Homo sapiens: one gene and its partners. The protein of the gene in region 3 interacts with the protein of the main gene of each other region in a pairwise test. Each region holds a gene or a part of one and is shown on either strand. Other genes may lie near its edges.

The links. Proteins that work in one complex are often made in the same cells at the same time.
Region 1: the proteins of PIAS2 (region 3) and CBS interact in binary tests that used the Homo sapiens proteins (3 or more experiments, as listed by UniProt).
Region 2: the proteins of PIAS2 (region 3) and HMG20B interact in binary tests that used the Homo sapiens proteins (3 or more experiments, as listed by UniProt).
Region 4: the proteins of PIAS2 (region 3) and HMG20A interact in binary tests that used the Homo sapiens proteins (3 or more experiments, as listed by UniProt).

The regions. Positions count from the first base shown.
Region 1 is NC_000021.9:43,069,290-43,073,747, forward strand, and holds part of CBS (cystathionine beta-synthase), read right to left. Parts: intron 4,053-4,458; 5' UTR 3,977-4,052; intron 2,913-3,976; 5' UTR 2,905-2,912; coding exon 2,696-2,904; intron 1-2,695. UniProt on the Homo sapiens protein: Hydro-lyase catalyzing the first step of the transsulfuration pathway, where the hydroxyl group of L-serine is displaced by L-homocysteine in a beta-replacement reaction to form L-cystathionine, the precursor of L-cysteine.
Region 2 is NC_000019.10:3,570,702-3,575,789, forward strand, and holds the start of HMG20B (SWI/SNF-related matrix-associated actin-dependent regulator of chromatin subfamily E member 1-related), read left to right. Parts: upstream 1-2,242; 5' UTR 2,243-2,293; exon of another isoform or gene 2,294-2,590; 5' UTR 2,591-2,608; coding exon 2,609-2,646; exon of another isoform or gene 2,647-2,990; coding exon 2,991-3,099; exon of another isoform or gene 3,100-3,116; intron 3,117-3,681; coding exon 3,682-3,885; intron 3,886-4,838; coding exon 4,839-4,959; intron 4,960-5,088. UniProt on the Homo sapiens protein: Required for correct progression through G2 phase of the cell cycle and entry into mitosis. Required for RCOR1/CoREST mediated repression of neuronal specific gene promoters.
Region 3 is NC_000018.10:46,889,155-46,894,392, forward strand, and holds part of PIAS2 (E3 SUMO-protein ligase PIAS2), read right to left. Parts: intron 4,378-5,238; exon of another isoform or gene 4,277-4,377; intron 1,901-4,276; coding exon 1,426-1,900; intron 1-1,425. UniProt on the Homo sapiens protein: Functions as an E3-type small ubiquitin-like modifier (SUMO) ligase, stabilizing the interaction between UBE2I and the substrate, and as a SUMO-tethering factor.
Region 4 is NC_000015.10:77,422,976-77,427,433, forward strand, and holds part of HMG20A (high mobility group protein 20A), read left to right. Parts: intron 1-4,458. UniProt on the Homo sapiens protein: Plays a role in neuronal differentiation as chromatin-associated protein. Acts as inhibitor of HMG20B. Overcomes the repressive effects of the neuronal silencer REST and induces the activation of neuronal-specific genes.

The DNA.
Region 1 (4,458 bases), on a different chromosome or scaffold from region 3:
CAGCATCTGGCTGTGTAAACCCTCAAACCCTGGTCCAGGTGGTTTCCTAAATGGCCCTCATGCCCCTGCCATCCTCCCCCAGGGAGATGCTGATGACACCCCCTATCTATCTGCACCAAGCTCACCACATACTCATCTGGGAACACGCATGGCTTACAGCGGTCTCCAGACCCGCAACCCCTCCCTGGGCCTTGCAGCTCCGATGACACCCCGTGGCTAACCCTGGGCCCCCTCTTCAGCACAGTCACCTGCTGAACAGCCAGGGTCCTTGGGTCCTGCCCCCCAGGAGGCGACCCTTAGACCTGGGGTGAACCCAGCTCCCAGAGGTCCTGTGCCATGGAGGGAGTGCCACATTTGCAGGGAGAGCTACCCTGAAGGCCAAAACAGGCGCCAACAAGAGCAGCTGGAATCCAATCGCACCCTTCCCGGGGAGCAGAAGGCAGTCCTGCCAGGTCCCCAAACTGTACAGGGGCCAGGGAGGTTCCCTCAGAAGCAGTTCTCGGCAGAAGGGAACCAGGCTTGGCAGGTGTAGAGAGCCAGGGCCAGGTGGAAAGCCAAGCCCCAGGGTGACAGCGCCGGGGATTAGTTCATTAATTCAGTTCGGGCATCTGGCCAGCCAGGCGGGAAGAGTCCCGCCTCCCTGCAGCAGGTGTGCTGACTCAGCACTGGGCCTCGGTGGCTGTGAAGTTACCTGAGAAGTTTGCAGAGGTGATCAGGGCCAGGCCCAGAGCGCTTAGCAAGAAAAAGGATGTGACTTGCAGGGATAGCCCTGGAGCCCCTTATCTCAAGGACTCCCACTTCCACAGCCCAAGAGGCTCCTGGGAGGACACGCCACTGTCCTAGAATGAACCTCCAACTCCTGACCCACCTCTGCAGCACCTCCCCGCAACGCCACTATTCTCAGGGGCCCTCCGACTGGAGACAAGCGGCGTCGGCTCTGCGTCTCAGGATGGGGGTGTCTTCGGAGGATGAATGAGGCCAGTATGTGAGGTGCAGGTGCAACGCCATTTACAACCTGGAGGGCATCGTCTCCTTCTCATGCCCTAGAGTTAGGAGCTCACGGAGCCCTCAGGAATCGGGCCTGTCTTCCCTGCCCACTCCACCCTCCAGCAGCCACTCCCGACCTCACCGGGCCTCTCACCCACTGCTCTCTTGGGTTTGTCTTGGCAGCAAGAGCCCATCCTCCTGGCTGCCCACACATCTGCTTGGCCTCCTGAGCTCCCAGCACTGAGTATGTTTGACACTCAGACCTTCTGGGTTTGTCCACTGTCACTTCTTTCTTTCTATTGCTGCACTGAGAGTACACCCAGCCACCCCCACCCATTCTGAACTGTAAATCAACAACCATAAACGCTGGTAGTGGTGGACACAAAATAGGAATCATAATCCCAGCACTTTGGGAGGCCGAGGCGAGTGGATCAACTGAGGTCAGGAGTTCAAGACCAGCCTGGACAACATGGTGAAACCCCATCTCTATTAAAAGCATAAAAATCCACCGGGCGTGCTGGCACATGCCTGTAATCCCAGCTACTAGGGAGGCTGAGGTAGGAGAATCGCTTCCCGGGAGGCAGAAGTTGCAGTGAGCTGAGATCGCGCCACTGCACTCCAGCCTGGGTGACAGCGAGACTCTGTCTCAAAAAAAAAAAAAAAAAAAAAGGAATCAAACATCTAAGAAGCACATTCTTTGATCTATTTGTTCTCCTCCAAGATTACACTAAGGAAATAAAGATAATCCTAAGGCTTAGTGAGCTTGATTTCAGTTTCATGCTGGGGTAGGGATTTTTGTTGATTTGTCTTTTCCACTGATAGATCTTCTGCGCCTTGAGCAGGGCACGAAATGCACATGGCGCTGAGGAAAGACTTGTTGGCTAAATGAATGTGTCGTATCTTCTATTGCAGTTATGTAAAATGAGGTAACTGCAAACATCTATCTACCCCGTAGAGGGCTTACAAAATGATGGCTTCTTCACCGAACAGTCTGTGCCACCAGAAAAACAGCCCTTATGGAAAAATATGTAATGCCTACGGGAAGTCTTCATGACCTAGAGTTAACGGAAAAGTGCAGGCTGGGCCGGGCGCGGTGGCTCACACCTGTAATCCCAACACTTGTGGGAGGCCAAGGCAGGCGGATCACTTGAACCTAGGCATTCAAGACCAGCCTGGGTGAAACCCCATCTCCTAAAAATACAAAAATCAGCTGGGTGTGATGGTGGGCACCCATAGTCCCAGCTACTTGGGAGGCTGAGGTGGGAGGATCCCTTAACTGGGGGAGATTGAGGCTGCAGTAAGCCATGATTGCACCACTGCACTCCAGCTCGTGTCTCAAAAAAATAAAAAATAAATAAATAAGAGAGCGCAGGCAGGATCCTGGTCCCTCACCTCCAGTGAATGTGCACACGCAGCCACAGACCGGGCAAAGCATGTGACCTGGGCACATTTATTTATTTATTCTGGAACTACTTGCTGAGCATCCACTGTCTTGCCAGGCACTGGCCTAGGCGCTGGGCTGCAGCGTAAGGAGGCCTTGGCCTCTCAGAGCCTCATCTACACGGCATGGCCCCACCCCCAGCTCCTCAATCCAGAGTGACTACAGGGGGTTACACCTCATGTCCTCCTGGCTGTGTGGTGTCCAGGTAACAAACTCCTGCCCTCCAGGTTATGGATCAGCCCTCTTGTGATCAAAAGCAGGACTTACGGGGCAGTGTGGTGATGTGGGGACTCGGAGGCAGGCCGGCCCAGCTGCCAGGTGCACCTGCTCGGAGCATCGGGCCGGATCCACAGGGGCTCCTTGGCTTCCTTATCCTCTGGGGACCCCTTCTCCAGGCTCCCCTTCGCCGAGTGTGGCCCTGAGCGGTGGGGGCAGCCTGTGGGCCCCACTTCTGCCTGGGGGGTCTCAGAAGGCATGCTGGGACCTGGCAAAGCAAGGAGAGAGGCGTCGGTTCAGGCTCGGATGCTGTGGGGTTCCAGCGAACCCTGCTGACCCGGCCCCCTCTGGGAGGCGTGCTCTGCTCCCTCAGAGAAGCCCAGGAAGAACTGCACAAAAACACAGGCACCAGCCCTGTGGGCAGCCGCTTGGCCATTTCTCTCCTATAGGCATATACCAAAAAAAATGGAAGCAGACAGTTGCTTGGGCCGGGTGCGGTGGCTCACGCCTCTCATCCCAGCACTTCGGGAGGCTGAGGCAGGAGGACCACTTGAGTCCACGAGGTCAAGACCAGCCTGGGCTCCAGCCCCATCTCTATTTAAAAAATAAAACAACAACAACAAAACAGATGCTTGCACACCCATGCTCACTGCTGCACTATTCACAAGTCAAAACGTGGAGGCAGCCCACGTATCCGCAGACGGATGAACACACACAGTAGGCTCATACACACACTAGAATATTACTCAGCCCTAAGAGAAATGAATTCTGGCACACGCTACAACACGGACGAACCTTCAGGACATTATGCCAAGCGAAATGAGCCAGACACAAAAGGACAAATACTGTGTGATTCCACTTCCACGATGAGGCACCTGGGACTCTCGAACGCCCCTCTATGTCTGGCAAATTCATAGAGATAGAAAGTAGAATAGAAGCGGCCAGCGGCTGAGGTGAGTGGGGAAGGGAGGGTGATTGTTTAATGGGTGCAGAGGTTGTGCTGGGGATGATGAAAACGTTCTGGGTGGAGATAGTCACGGTGGTTGCCTCACACTTAGAAATGGTTACAGTGATCAGTGTTACGTGTATTTTACCCAGGATTAAAAACACACACACGCACCTGAAATAGATGAGACAGAAAAAAAAAAGAAGAAAGCAAAAAGAAAGCCAGGCGAGGTCCCATCTGCTGCCCCTCCTCTGGGGGGACAAGGAACCCACGACCACCTCCCACCTTGCCTTCTTCAGAGGGCCCAGGACTGGGCTCAGCCCCGCTTCACCCTCCTTTGATTCCCCACATTCAACAGGAAGACTAAGTCCACAGCCGTCACTCACCGGACAGATGGTGCTGACAGTTCAGCACCGCTCAAACTCTGTAAGGAGACGTGACAACAGAATCTGTCATGGGATCCTGGAATAGAAAAGGGCAGTGAGGAGAAAACTCTGCAAATCTGACTCAAGCGCGGACTTTGGTTAATGTCAACAATGGTTATGTGATCGTGGAATTGGCTCATTAATTGTAACAAATAGGCCGGGCGCGGTGGCTCACGCCTGTAATCCCAGCACTTTGGGAGGCCGAGGCGGGCGGATCATGAGGTCAAGAGATCGAGACCATCCTGGCCAACATGGTGAAACCCCGTTTCTACTAAAACTACAAAAATTAGCCAAGCATGGTGGCGCACACCTGTAGTCCCAGCTACTCGGGAAGCTGAGGCAGGAGAATCGCTTGAACCCGGGAGGGGGAGGTCAGTGAGCCGAGATCGCGCCACTGCACTCCAGCCTGGCAACAGAGCGAGACTCCGTCTCAAAAAATAAAA
Region 2 (5,088 bases), on a different chromosome or scaffold from region 3:
CCAGGGCCAGCTCCTCTTCCTCAGCCCCGGGCTGCATCTTAGGACAATGGGCTTATTGAGACTTAACTCACATATAATGCACCCATTTAGAGCATACAATTCCATGGTTTGTAATATATTTCCAGAGTCACGCAGCCATCACTGAAATCAAATTGTAAAATACTTTCATCACCCAAATGAAAACCGCATCCCTCTCAGTGGTCATTCCCCACCCACTGGCACCCACACGTCCCCCTCCTGTCTCTGTGGATGGGCCTTTCCTGAACATTCTGATCACACACTGTGTGACCTTTGTGTCTGGCGTCTCTCACTGAGTGTGATGTCTTCTAGGTACATCCATGCTGTGACTTGTGTCAGAGACTCGCTCCTTTTTTTTATGGCTGATAATATTCTTTTTTTTTTTTTTTGAGACGTAGTCTTGCTCTGTTGCCCAGGCTGGAGTGCAGTGGCACAATCTTGGCTCACTGCAACCTCTGCCTCCCAGTTCATGGGATCCTCCTGCCTCAGCCTCCCATGTAGCTGGGATTACAGGCGTGCACCACCACGCCTGGCTAGTTTTTGTATTTTTAATAGAACTGGAGTTTCACCATGTTGGCCAGGCTGGTCTCGAACTCCTGACCTCAAGTGATCCGCCTGCCTCCCAAAGTGCTGGGATTACAGGCGTGAGCCACTGCGCCCGGCCCATGGCGGATAATATTCTGTTGTAAGGATATATCCCGTCATCGATCCATGCATCATTAGCAGACGTTTGAGTTGTTTTCACTTTTTGGCTATTATGAATCACGCTGCTACCGACGCTTGTGTACACGCTTTTGTTTGAACACCTGTTTTCAGTTGTCTGGAGTATATTCCTAGGAGTGAACTGCTGAATTGCATGGTGATTCCACATTTATTTAACCCTTTGAGGAAATGCCAGTCTGTTTTCCAAAGCAGCTGCATCTGCCTCCTAGACATCTGAAGGATTCAATGAATGTGTATTGAGCATCCACCATGGGCAATGCTGTGAACCAAACAGGCAGGCCACAGGGAGAAGCCGACTTATGGAGGCAAAAAAAAAATCAGAGAAGGCCTGGCTGAGCAAGTGACATTTAAGCGGACTTGAGGAAGAGGAAGTGGGCCGGGCGTGGGGGCTCACGTCTGTAATCCCACCACTTTGGGAGGCCGAGGCGGGTGGATCACGAGGTCAGGAGTTCAAGACCAGCCTGGCCAAGATGGTGAAACCCTGTCTCTACTAAAAATACAAAAATTAGCCGGGCGTGGTGGCAGGCGCGTGTAATCCCAGCTACTCGGGAGGGTGAGGCAGAGAATTGCTTGAACCCGGGAGGCAGAGGTTGCAGTGAGCCGAGATCCAGCCACTGCACTCCACCCTGGACGACAGGGTGAGACTCCGTCTCAAAAACAAAAGAGGAGGTGAGCAGCCCCAACTTGGGCCAGAAGCCTAGACTGCTGCTGGGAGGTCCCTGATCCACCAGAGCGGAGCCTCCTGACCCATCCTCACGAAGTCCTTGCCATCTCCCTTCACCACCATCTTTCCCCAAACACTTCCAGCCCAGCTCCCAACCCCACCCCCTGCCTGACCCACACCCAGTTCTCAGCTTCCCAGCATCCCAGTCTCTCTGTCCTGGATATCGTGTGATGTCCCCGTTGCACAGGGGGGAAAGCCGAGACCCCAGAGGGAGAGCAGCCCCTATGGCCAGAAGCCCTCGGATCCGGACGTCGGGGGCTCTAAACTGAGTAAATACATAGGAAACTTCTCCGCTAGGTTTTGCAGGATGTTAAGAACAGGTCCCACCTTGCCTAGGGCTGGGGACTGCCTCGCAGGACCTTAACCCTAGCAACCCACCTCCGTCCCCATGGCAACCGGGGCGGGGCCCGACCCGGATCCGCCGGTCGCCCCATCCGGCAGCGGCTGGGAGTCTTGCCTTCAGAGAGGGAGGAGGAGTCCGCGCCTCTCCTACTGGCCCTTTAAGAGGCTCCGCCCGGCAAGTCCGCCACTCGCTCCCGATTGGTCCCGAGCGCGGCCGAGCGCAGCCGAACTTGACGCACCGCCCGCAGCCTTCCTTACCAACCTCCCACGCGACTCAGCAACCTCCCCAACCAATCGCCGGCCGGCGCGCCGATCGGTATCTGCATGGGCTCGCCCGGGGGGAAGGTCTCACCCAATGGGACCGTTCGCCGAGGCCTTCATTAGCATGCCGGGGGCGGGGAGGGGCGGGGCGGCCGACGGGGGCGGGCTGCGGGCGGTTGGTTGGAGCGTCGCGCAGTCGGGAGGTCCGGGAAAGTTTCTTTGGAGGTGAAAACAGCCGCGGAACTCCGGGCCCTGAGAGGGGGCGGGGGTGCAGGGGTCCCAGGGCCGGGCCGGGGTCTTTCCTGGCCCGGGGGAAACCGGCCCAGGCCTCCCGGGGGGGGCAATCGCCCAACAAAGGATTCTTGGGGCGCCCGCCCTCGAGGACTTCCCTGCCCCTGGATCCGGCCCCCCCAGCGCTCCGGGCCCGGCATCCCGGGGCTCTCCATCGCGGGGTACCCCAGTTCGCGGTCTGCCATCGGGCAGCCCGGGCGCTACTCACCTCCGCCCGCGTCCGTGTTCCAGGTCCGGCCCGGAGCGGCCATGTCCCACGGCCCCAAGCAGCCCGGCGCGGCCGCCGCGTGAGTGCACTGATCCCCTCCCCACGCCCTCGCTACTTTCCCGGCTGCAGCCCTAGCTCCTGAACCCCTGACCCAGTCCCTCCCGCCGGAGTCTTGACTCCCCCACCTGGGTCAGGGGGCTTCTCCCTCCACCCAATTCTGCACCCCCCACCTCGGCCTCCAGTCCCTCCCAGGAGCCCCGCTTGTCCCACCTTCCCCGGATACTGACCCCATCAGACCCTGCCTCCTCGGGCTCATGCACTCTCGCTGCAGCCCCGCCGTCGGGGGTCAAAACGCCCTGGGGTGGGCTTTTGGGGGAGGGGAGATTCTTGGGACGGGGCTGACCGCGGTATCCTTGGCTCCAGGCCGGCGGGCGGCAAGGCTCCGGGCCAGCATGGGGGCTTCGTGGTGACTGTCAAGCAAGAGCGCGGCGAGGGTCCACGCGCGGGCGAGAAGGGGTCCCACGAGGAGGAGGTGAGAGTCCCTGCGCTGAGCTGGGGGAGGCCCCGGGCTCCCGCCCCAGCCTCGAAGCCCCGCCCCAGGCTGGATTTGAATTGCTTGTGGCTCCGCCCACAGCCCATTTTCCTCTGGAAGCTGAGACCCCGCCCCGTGCCAGCTGCCACGCCCCTGACAGGTCCTCTGCCACTCTAAGTCCAGGCCCCGCCCACCGCACAATGCCAGCTCTGCCCACTCTAAGGTCCCGCCCACTTCCACTCCTTGGGGGCGGCACCCTCCCCTTGGTCCTGTGGGCCCGTTCTCCAGCAGAAAACCACGCCCACCAAGCAGAGGCCACGCCCACAACCGAAGTCAACGCCAACCCTGTACTCAAACCTCGGCCCATAGTTCCTCAGATCCCCTCACCCCTGGCCAGGGATCCCTCTAACCCACCGTGTCCCGACTGCTGACCGGGCCCTACCTCCATCTTTTCCGGGTTCTTCCTCCCAGCTAGGCCCCGCCCCCATCCCCGCCCATACGCGTTAGGCCCCGCCCATGCCCCTCTGAGCCCTGCCCCAGTACGCCAGGCCCCCCTCCCAACGACGCAGCCCGGTTCTGCAGCCGGTGAAGAAACGCGGCTGGCCCAAGGGCAAGAAGCGGAAGAAGATTCTGCCGAATGGGCCCAAGGCACCGGTCACGGGCTACGTGCGCTTCCTGAACGAGCGGCGCGAGCAGATCCGCACGCGCCACCCGGATCTGCCCTTTCCCGAGATCACCAAGATGCTGGGCGCCGAGTGGAGCAAGCTGCAGCCAACGGAAAAGCAGGTGGGCGGGGCGGGGCGCCGAGCAGGGCTGGCGGGGTCCACGGACTACCCCCCAGTAGCCCCGACCCCCAAAGGATTCCACGTGCAGGGTTTTTCCTTCTTCCTGGAGAAATGCCCACCCATAACCAACTTTTTTTTTTTTTTTTTTTGTGAGATGGAGTCTTGCTCTGTTGCCCAGGCTGGAGTGCAGTGGCGTGATCTCAGCTCACTGCAACCTCCGCCTCCCGGCTTCAAGCAATTCTCCTGTCTCAGCCTCTCAGGTAGCTGGGATTACAGGCGCGTGCTACCATGCCCTGCTAATTTTTGTATTTTTAGTAGAAATGGGGTTTCGCCATGTTGGCCAGGCTGGTCTCGAACTCTTGACCTCAAATGATCCGCCCACCTCAGCCTCCCAAAGTATTGATATTAAAGGCGTTAGCCACCGTGGCCAGCCCATGACCAGCTTTTGGGGGCGCGGCTAGCAAGAGGCAAGACAGATTGAAAACTGGATGACCAACAAAGATATGTCTAAGAAGTCAGGATGGGGCCTGGATTTTTTGCGAAACCCGATTTTCATATCCTGTTAGTTTAAAAATTGCAAAAACATCACGGAAATGTAACAAAAGCCATCACTGCTTTGCATCCCTGTAAGTGAGATTTCAAAGAGAGAAACGGGTGCGGGAGGGAGTCCAGGCATCCGCATACGCTGGAGGTTGGGTTCCTGCCCATGACTCTGGCGTCCGGGAGTGGTTTGTCAGGGCTGGAGGTGGGGAAGAGTCCGGGGCATGGGAAGTGAGGTGGGAGCTCGGAGGTCCCTGAGCAACAGGCTGAGGAGCCGGTTCTGTCTGCCTGGAGGGAATAGGGAGCTATAGAAGGTTCAGGAGAGGGGAGGGTGCTGTGAAAGCAGAGTGATAAAGACTGGATCCTGGCGTTGGAGGCTTCCCCTGCTTCAAGCCTTCTGGTGCTGCCCCCCAGCGGTACCTGGATGAGGCCGAGAGAGAGAAGCAGCAGTACATGAAGGAGCTGCGGGCGTACCAGCAGTCTGAAGCCTATAAGATGTGCACGGAGAAGATCCAGGAGAAGAAGATCAAGAAAGGTGGGAGGGGTCGGGCGCGGTGGCTCACGCCTGTCATCCCAGCACTTTGGGAGGCCGAGGCGGGTGTATCACCTGAGGTCAGACCAGCCTGGCCAACATAGTGAAACCCTCCCCCTCTACTAAAAATAC
Region 3 (5,238 bases):
CTTCACAGCATGAAGTTTAGCAATGATTTCTTGGATATGACACCAAAGGCATAGGCAACAACAACAAAAAATAAACAAATTGGAATTTCATGAAAAAATGTTAAGTTGTACATCAAAAGACACTATCAACAGAGTAAAAAAGGCAAACCACAGAGTGGGAGAAAATATTTGCACATTCATATATCTGATAAGGGATTATATCCAGAATATACAGAGAACTCCTAAAACTCAACAACAATAAAACAAACCAATTCAAAAATGGGCAAGAGACTTGGCTATACATTTCTTGAAAGATACATAAATGGCCAAAAAGCACATGAAAATGCACAATATCACCATCATTACAGACATGCAAATCAAAGCTACAATAAGATACCACCTGACACCCATTATAATGGCCACTATAAAAAAAAAAGGAAAATAAAAGTGTTGTTAAGGATGTGGAGAAACTGGAACCCTTGTGCACTGTTGAAGGGAATGTAAAATGCAGCTGCCACGGAAAACAGTATGGTGATGCCTCAAAATACTAAAAACAGAATGACTATGTGATCCAGCAATTCCACTTGTGGGTATACAGCCAGAAGAATTGAAAAGCAGGGTCTCAAAGAGATACGTGTATACCCGTGTCCACAGAATTATTCGCAATAGCTAAAATGTGGGAGCAACCCAAGTGTCCAATGGATAAGCAAAATGTGGTATCCTATAACACAGAAATATAGAAGTAAAACCAGAAGAAACAGCTAAAATAATTAAGGTTGTTGCCTCTTGAAAGTGAGATTGAGGGATGAGTAGTGGAGTGAGCAAAAGATTACTATTTTTCTTTAAAAATGTATACTATTGTATTATTTAGCCTTTAAAAGGAAAGAAATTCTAACATAAACTACAGCATGCTAGAACCTTGAGGACATTACATTTAGTGAAATAAGCCAGTCACAAGACAAATACTGTATGATTCCAACGACATGAGGTACTTGGAATAGTCAAAATCATAGACAGTGGAAGTAGAATGGTAACTGCCAGGGGCTAGTGGGAGAGGAGGAGAGGAAGGCTATTGTTTAATGGGTACAGAGTTTCAGCTTCAGAAGATGAAAAGAGTTCTGGAGATGGATGGCAGTGATGGCTGCACAACATTACCAACATACTTAACACCACTCAACTGTACACTTTAAAATGATCAAGATGATACATTTTATATTATGTGTATTTTACAATAAAAGAATTGGAGAAGAAGAAAGATCAAATGATATGAAATAAAGCTTCTATTAGATTTCAGTCATGGTTGCCGAATTTTTATCCGTATATTCAAACATTCGGCATTGATGCCTCAATTTCACTATATTAACAGCACATCATTAATCAATAGTTGAAGGTCTCTCATTTCATTTACTATCTTGTTCAGAAGAAACTGAATTCTCAAACACTTACCTAAACTCGTGGGCTTGATGAGAACATCAAGGACATCATAAAAGGGCAGATTTTTTAACTGCACATCAGGATGGACAGGAGGAATTGGGGGAGATGGCTGCTGCATCTCAAATGTGGGCTTAGTATCTTGAAGCAGCACAGAACCAACAGGAGAGGATGGTGAGTGAGGTGTAACTGAAGTGGAAGGCAACGAGTGGATTCCAGCCACGGCCAAGTCAGGTTCTACAGGTGATGAGCCACCATCCAAACTGAAAACCGATGATTTGATTGTGGATAAATCAGAAAGTCCTTCAAGAGTTCGTGGATATCGGCGTCTATACAATTCTCGGATTTTAATCTGAACCGCAGGGCTGCAGCCGCTCTTCAATAAATGCAGCGCCCTCATCAGGAGGTCATGCTTGCGTCCACTTTTATTCCGTCCAGCAAAGCCTAGTAATACTTGTAGTTCAGAAACCCTAAAACTAGAAACCATATTCTAAAAGGAAAGAAAAAAAAACATAAGCCAAGTCACCCTCAAGCATACAAAAATCCTATCTAAAATATAATGTAAAATGTGATTTTTCCAGCATTCTATCAATTGGCATGTGCTAGTAACAGCATTTCACATACCACTTAGAATCATTACCATTCATAAGACAATCCCGTAAAAATTACATTCAAGTTACGGTGTTAATTATATTTTGTTGTACAAGATCTTAATTTTGGTAATCTATAGTCTATTGGTTTCTACTAACCACTTCATTATCTGATTATGCTCTAATGCAAACAGTTATTTGCTTTATGACTATAAAATCTATCACCAATGAATATACTCCTTTTCAAAACCAACCCCTCCCAATATACAATGTAATGTTTGTTACAGAATTATCGCCAATTAACCAAACAAAAAATCAGATTTTCACAATGTTAGATGTGTAACTTTTGATGCTGAGTAGTAAATCCATAAAAATCAAGTCAGAACTGTGATCCAAAATGCAATGAATTTTTTACCCCAATTCAAACATTAACAAACAAACAACATAATAAAGATATTTTAAAATATTAAAGCTAAAAAATCACATACATCTTATTTAGCAGTCAAACTTCTAAAACAACTGAAATTCCCAGCTGGGTATCCAAATGAGAAAAAGACCTTTGAAGAGCAAGGAAATGAGCAGTCATCAATCTTAAAGGGCAACATTTCCTCCACACTACTCTACTGGCTTGTGCTTGGGCGTAAAACAAAGGTTATAAGCAGTTGCAGCTTCACATCACACCTTCTATTTTTTCAGCAAAACTTAATGAATATTTTTAACCCCTTGCAGCCTCAGGAATCCACCTACTTAGTGATTTCCAGTCAATTCTGAACTCAGAGGCAAATCACACTTGGGTCAGATACCACACATGCATCATCTAGCAAGAAAGAGGAAGAACACCTGGAGCTGACCAAAGCCCTGTCAGAAACCTACCCAGGAGAACTACCTGTGGTTTGGTGTCCCATCCCATCCTCATCACTCCCCCAACCCAGCCCGTGCTACACACTCCACAGTCACTTGGGATTCCTTTTCAACCTGCTTGTCTCATCAGTATAGTGGAAATGTGGGGCAGTTGCTCTGTACTTTTTAAGTCTCAGGGACGGCCCAGAAGCAACTGTTTAAAACCCTATATGGTTTTTAAATACTTGTTGGTATAAATACTTGCTAGTTTACTAAAATGCAAACAGATTTAAATATGCCAAAGTAATCCATATACACTGTCATAACTGTACTTTGTGTACTATATATGTCTCTATATTTCATAATGTACAAGTGAGAGAATATTAAATTGTAATCCTGGCAAGCCATTTTATACTCTAATTCAGTGCTGTCCAACACAAATTAATAGAAGACACACATTAAACCTCCTAGTAGTCACATTAAAAAAACTAATTTAGGCCAGGAACAGTGGCTCACACCTATAATCCCAGTGCTTTTGGAGGCCAACACAAGAGGATCACTTGAGCCCAGGAGTTCGAGACCACACTGGACAACATACTAACACCCCGTCTCCACAAAAATTTAAAAATTAGCCAGCCATGGTGGTGTGTGTGCCTGTGGTCCAAGCCACTCAGGAGACTGAGGCGAGAGGATCACTTGAGCCCAGGAATTTGAGGCTACAGTGAACTGTGATCACACCACCATATTCCAGCCTAGGCAATATTAAGACTGTCTCAAAAATAATAATAATAATAATGATAATTTACATTAACATAGTTATTTAACCCAATATATCAAAACTATCTTTTCATCTCAACATGCAATCAATTTTTGTAATTTAAAAATAATCATTTTTTAAAGTGTCAGTGGGATTTTTTTTATACTAAGTCTTCAATATCTGGTGTATATTTTACACTTACAATACATCTAAATTTGGACTAACCACATTTCAAGTGCTTAAGAGCCACATGTGGCCACTAGCTACCACACTGTGGTAGCTCTAAATCATACTCTAATAGAACACATACCACAATGTGTGTTACCTCTACAGTGCAGACAACAAAGAAGGAAAACAAGAAAACTTTTGGCCTATCTCATAACAAACCAGTCACAGCTTACTCAACATCTCATGCATTAAACAGAAGACAACAGCTTCTTGGGAAGGGTTTACCCAAGCAAGTAATACGATGCATCTTTCCCTCAATCTTAGTAAATACTTCAATTGATTGTGGAACACTAATACTAAAAAAGGCAATCACACAGATAAAACATAACTGATTTTTTCTAACTCAGAATTCACTACTTTGCTTCACTCCTTATACTTATTGTCAGATATTCTTCATTTTAAGGGAAGCTATTTTACAGAAATGACAAAACAAAGCACAAAGTCATCCTACCTAAGCTTGACTCTCAGAGGAATTTCTAGGAGGTCTCATATCTCATATTTCCAGTGATAACATTATTTGGCAAAGGATGTTAATGCAACTGGCTCTATGGGCTGTTGTAAATAGACAAACAAAAAGTAAGAAAGAGATAAGAGCTTAGACTATGAATGCGGAATCACAGAATTCTGAACAGCAGATGGGACAGTCTTTGCATTACAAAATGCTGCAAAGATAAAGTATTGCTGGACACATAGCCAAAGGTAATTAAGTCAACAGGGCCCTGTGAAAAACTTCAAGCCAGCAATCAGCAGTTGTGGTTCAAGCCCAAGCACCAAGACTTTGGACCCTGGGAAAGTCATTTCATCCCTCTGGTCATCAATTTCTATTTTAAAATAACAAACACCCCCCAAAAAAATCCCTCTCCTTGGCCAGGCACAGTGGCTCACGCTTATAATCTCAGCACTCTGGGAGGCAAGGCGGGTGGATCATTTGAGGTCAGGAGTTCAAGACCAGCCTGACCAACATGGTGAAACCCCGTCTCTACTAAAATTACAAAAATTAGCCAGGCTTGGTGGTACACACCTGTAGTCCCTGCTACTCGGGAGGCTGAGGCAGGAGAATTTCTTCAACCCAGGAGGTGGAAGTTGCAGTGAGCCAAGACTGAGCCACTGCACTCCAACCTGGGCGACAGAGTGAGACCCCATCTCAAAAAGCAAAAATCAAAAATCCCTTTCCTTTATTTAGCACTTACTGATAAAATAATCTCAAAGCAGCTTACTAAGTAAAATTCTACAAATATGTTGTTTGGCAAATCTTACCAGATCCCACTTCCTCTAGGAGTAATACCTATTTTTTCTTAACTTAGTCTTTCACCAAGTTTCAGGCCCTTCCCCCACAGTGAGTGGGTGTGGTGAGTAGAGAGGGTCACCAGAGCCCACATGGGGGTTAAGGTTAGCCTGCTATGAACACTACCA
Region 4 (4,458 bases), on a different chromosome or scaffold from region 3:
GGAATTATTGAAGTATGGAAAGATTGTAGAACTAAATGAAAAAAATAGAGAATATCATGTTAAAATACTGATTGAGATAGAGTAATATTGCCTTTTGGAAACTGTCTTTATTAAATTGGTCTTTATGGTACTCCATGGAAGAAATACAGTATAATAGAAATAAGAAAAATTGTTGCAGCTGAAAGACTTGAGCAGCTTGAAGAACTATCTGTTTAGAAGAAAGCAATATATAAAATACCTATCTGAAAGAAGGTATTTTGTGATAAGTGGCAGTTATTCATTGGTTCCATCAAAGAAGAAATATTAGAAAAGCTTGTGAAAAATAGAGAGAGAAGGTCCATAGAACCTGTTTTTATTCTTTTTAAAAATGTTTCTTTAGAGAGGCTTGCTGTCCTCCAAAGGTTTTTTTTTCTTAATGCCCTTTGTGCAGTTTTCTTTGCATGTTTAATAGAAATATAGTATCAAAATTTAAAGAATTAATATTTTTGTACATGTACTGTTACTTCAAGTTAATGAATTTGAGATTTCATTCCATTACTTGCCATATATGTAACAAAGAAAGTGTCAAATCTTTTTTTCAAATACTTGGATTAGATAACCATTTTCTTTTCCAAAGACAGTCATTGGATACACTGCTCACAGCAGTTTGAAATATTAAAACCGTAGGTCACAATTCTGGATTCCATCTGACTGAAATTAGATTATCCACAGAGATGTTATACATAATACAGAAGTGTCTTTTCATTCTTTCATCTACTTTACTTTGTAAAATCAGGCTAATGTTTTGCAACTGTTGCTTTCCTTGTTTGTCGTTTTGGTGGTGGTTTGTTTTTGTTGTTGTTTTTGCCGTAGGGTTGAGGATTAAAGAAAGTATCTTAAGAACCTGAATGGTTTTTCACCTTACTGCTTTGCTGTCTCTATTTCATAGCCTTCACAGGTATTCAAATGAGAATACCCTTTACGTGACTTTTCATTATTTAAGCAAAAGTTTAGAGTGTCTACTATATGCCAGTCACTGTTCTCAGGACTTTGAATACAGTAAATACGGCCAAATATTCATATTCTACTGTAGTTTACTCTCTAATTTACAAATTAAAACTAGAATTTTGCTCCCTTGGTATTCCTAAATAAGATCTATGTTATGATCGTTGTTCAGACTGGGTAAAGAAGCAGCCCTAAACTTGATCTCTCCTGGTCTTAATCTCTAAGCCATTCTAAACCCAGATTTGAATGTTTCAGCCTAATTTTTCTCCAGACCATAGAAGCCCCTGTGTTAAATATGCAGTCCCTTTCATTGATACATGTATCATTTTCCTACCATTCTAGCTTCTTTTGTATTGTGAAAACAAATGAGAGTGAACAGTGGGGAAAATATGGGATCAGATAGGCCCAAATTCAGCACTGGTCTCTGCATTTTACTGGCTGAGCTTACTAGCTTGGTAACCATGAGCAATTTATTTGACCTCCCTAAGCCTCAGTTTTCCTAAATCCAAATGGGGTTGTTTGGTGGAATCAGAATGTTGTATGTAAATCTCCTGGTCCAATGCCTGGTGCCAGAAGCTTCATTAATGCAATTATCTTACCCCCAATCTTGCTTCTGCTACTCTGGCTATTGTGATTTGCCCACATGTCTGTTTTAAGCTTTACATTTTCCCCACAGTATGGGATGCAGTGGTAGACTGACTGAGCTTCAGCCTTGTCCCCCTATCAGCATGCTCACACAGTTGTCAAGATTTAATTTTTTTTCCTTGTGGGAAGGAGAAATCACTAATTTCCATGATTAGAAGATATACAAAATAGAAAAGTTTCAAGAAAAGGAATCTTAATCTTGGCACAAATCACTAAGGTAATTTGAATTGTTACAGGCAGACTTTCAACTCATTCTCCTAAACTTATTTAAATACGAAAACCAAAAATGACCTTTCACACTATGATCATACCTCACATTATTCATCTACACATCCAAACGGGATCGCCTCTGGGGGGAAAAAAATCTGTACTGCACCCAGCATTAATATTTTTTTTTGCTCATGCTATTTTCTGCCTGAAACACTCTTTTTTCCTAGGAATCCCCATCTATCAAAATGCCACTTTCTTTGAGGTCGTTTCTCAAGTACCACATTTAAGAAATATTTTCTGATATCCATCCTCTTCTACACTCTCCCAAACTGTACACGTTCTGTCCATTAACTCTCCAGAGCATTATACCTTTCTTACAGCACTTACTGTCCAGTGCTCCTCTTGTTTGTTTTTATTGCGTTGTTGTAGGTAGAGTTTATGCCTTCCCTAAAAGGCTGCAGACTAGGTCTTATTCCACTCTGTGCTGTCATACCTGGCACAAGACCATTCACATCATAGGTATTCAGTAAATATTTGTGGACGTGAGCTGGCTCTTGGAGTATGACAAAACTGATCAATAACTTTTGTCCACAATTATGCCCAGCATCAGCACAATGGCTATCATACATTAGACACTCAAATATCTATAAAATGAAAGAGTGAATAGTAAGTCATCATTCTCTCATTTGGGAGCTTCTTAGGGTGTCAGATAAGCATATATTAAGCACCTCCTATATAACTGGAGCTGTAAGAACTGATCTCTGCTCCTCAATTTAATTGGAAAAAAGTAAATTGTTACTAATATCTGCAGACTTTGAAGATGGTAGGTGTTTGAGTAGGGATGGCATGGAGAGCTTAATATAGAATTGTTTGCATTGTGAGAGATACCCTCTGCTACCTGAACTCAGAAACCAAATAGATTTTTATATCAAATATTTGGACACTTAACTTGTATTTCCACTCCTAGGTATATATCCAAGAGAACTTAAAACATGTTCACACAAAAACTTGCACACAAATATTTGTAGCAGCCTTATTTGTAAAAGGCAAACTCAAATGTCCATTAATTATTGGATGACTAAACAAAATGCGATATAGCCATACAATGGAATATTATTCAGCAACAAAGAGAAACAAAGTAGCAATACCTGCTGTAACATGGATAAAACTTGAAAATATTAAAGTGAAAGAAGTCACATACAAAAGGCAACCTATTATGTGATTCCATTTATTTAAGATGTCTAGATTAGGCAAAACTAATAGAGACAGAAAGTACATTAGTGGATGGGAATGGGAGTGACTGCTAGTATGGAGTTTCCTTTGGAAGTGATGAAAATGTGCCAGAATTAGATAGTGGTGGTGGTTGCATAACCTTATATACTAAAATATCTTGTATACTAATATACAGTTGACACCTGAACAATGAGGGGGTTCGGGGTGCTAACCCCTGTGTTGTCAAAAATCCATGTATAACTTCTGACTCCCCAAAAAGTTAACTACGTAAATAGCTTACTGCTGACTGGAAGCCTTACCAATAGCATAAATAGTTGATTAACACATGTTTTATATGTTACATGTACTATGTACTGTATTCTTACAATAAGCTAGAGAAAGAAAATGTTACTAAGAAAATGATAAGGAAGAAAAAATATGTTTACTATTTATTATTCGTTAAGTGGAAGTGGATTATCATAAAGGTATTCATCCTTGTCATCTTCACATTGAGTAGGCTGAGAAGGAGGAAGAGGAAAGGTTGGTCTTACTGTCTCAAGTGGTGGAGGCAGAAGAAAATCAGCATATAAGTAGACTCATGCAGTTCAACCCATGTTGTTCAAGGGTCAACTGTACAAAAAAAATCCTGAAATATACACTAAAGGGGTCAGTTTTATGGTATGTGAATTATATCTAAAAGAGAGAGATACTTAGACTTGAAGAATAGAGAATTTTGAATGGAGCCAGAAGAAAGAAGCAAGAGGTGTGAAAGCAAGGAAATGATCATTCTTTCTCAGATCCTAGAGAGAAATATAAGCAGCTAGGTACAGGGCTAAAGGTATGTTAAGGATCAGGTGAGGATGGATATGAGGATAGCTTCTGGGTTTTTGTCTTAATGTAGCAGGGATTTTGGTAAATACTTAGACTACAGAGGTATTAACAAAGGAGAAAAACATCTTATGACCTTGAAGGAAGCTTCAGATTTCTTCTTGATTAGGTCAAGGATGTGGTATATGGTCTTTTTGGTTTCTGTGTTACGGTCAGCTGAGTTTAAAGAGTGGGAGTATTCTAAGGTAAGGAGTCTAGTAGCAATCAAAACAAAGTTACTGGGGAAGATGGGAGAATAGAGACTAGACAAAGATGTTAGAATTTGATTCTAAAGCTCTCCTCAGGTAATAAAAATAGATAAATCTTAATGAGAAGGAACCAAGGGCAGTGATTTGGAGAAGTCAGTACAAATAAAGGTATTCATTTGAAGAAATATTTGAGTGCCTTTTATGTGCCAGGCACTATTAAATAAAACTATAGCTATTTTCCTTATTTGACTTTTTTTCTGAAGATAAAATCTTATGAGTGTGATTAATGGTTCTACAAGCATGGGTAGTTCTAGATATGATACCTACATTT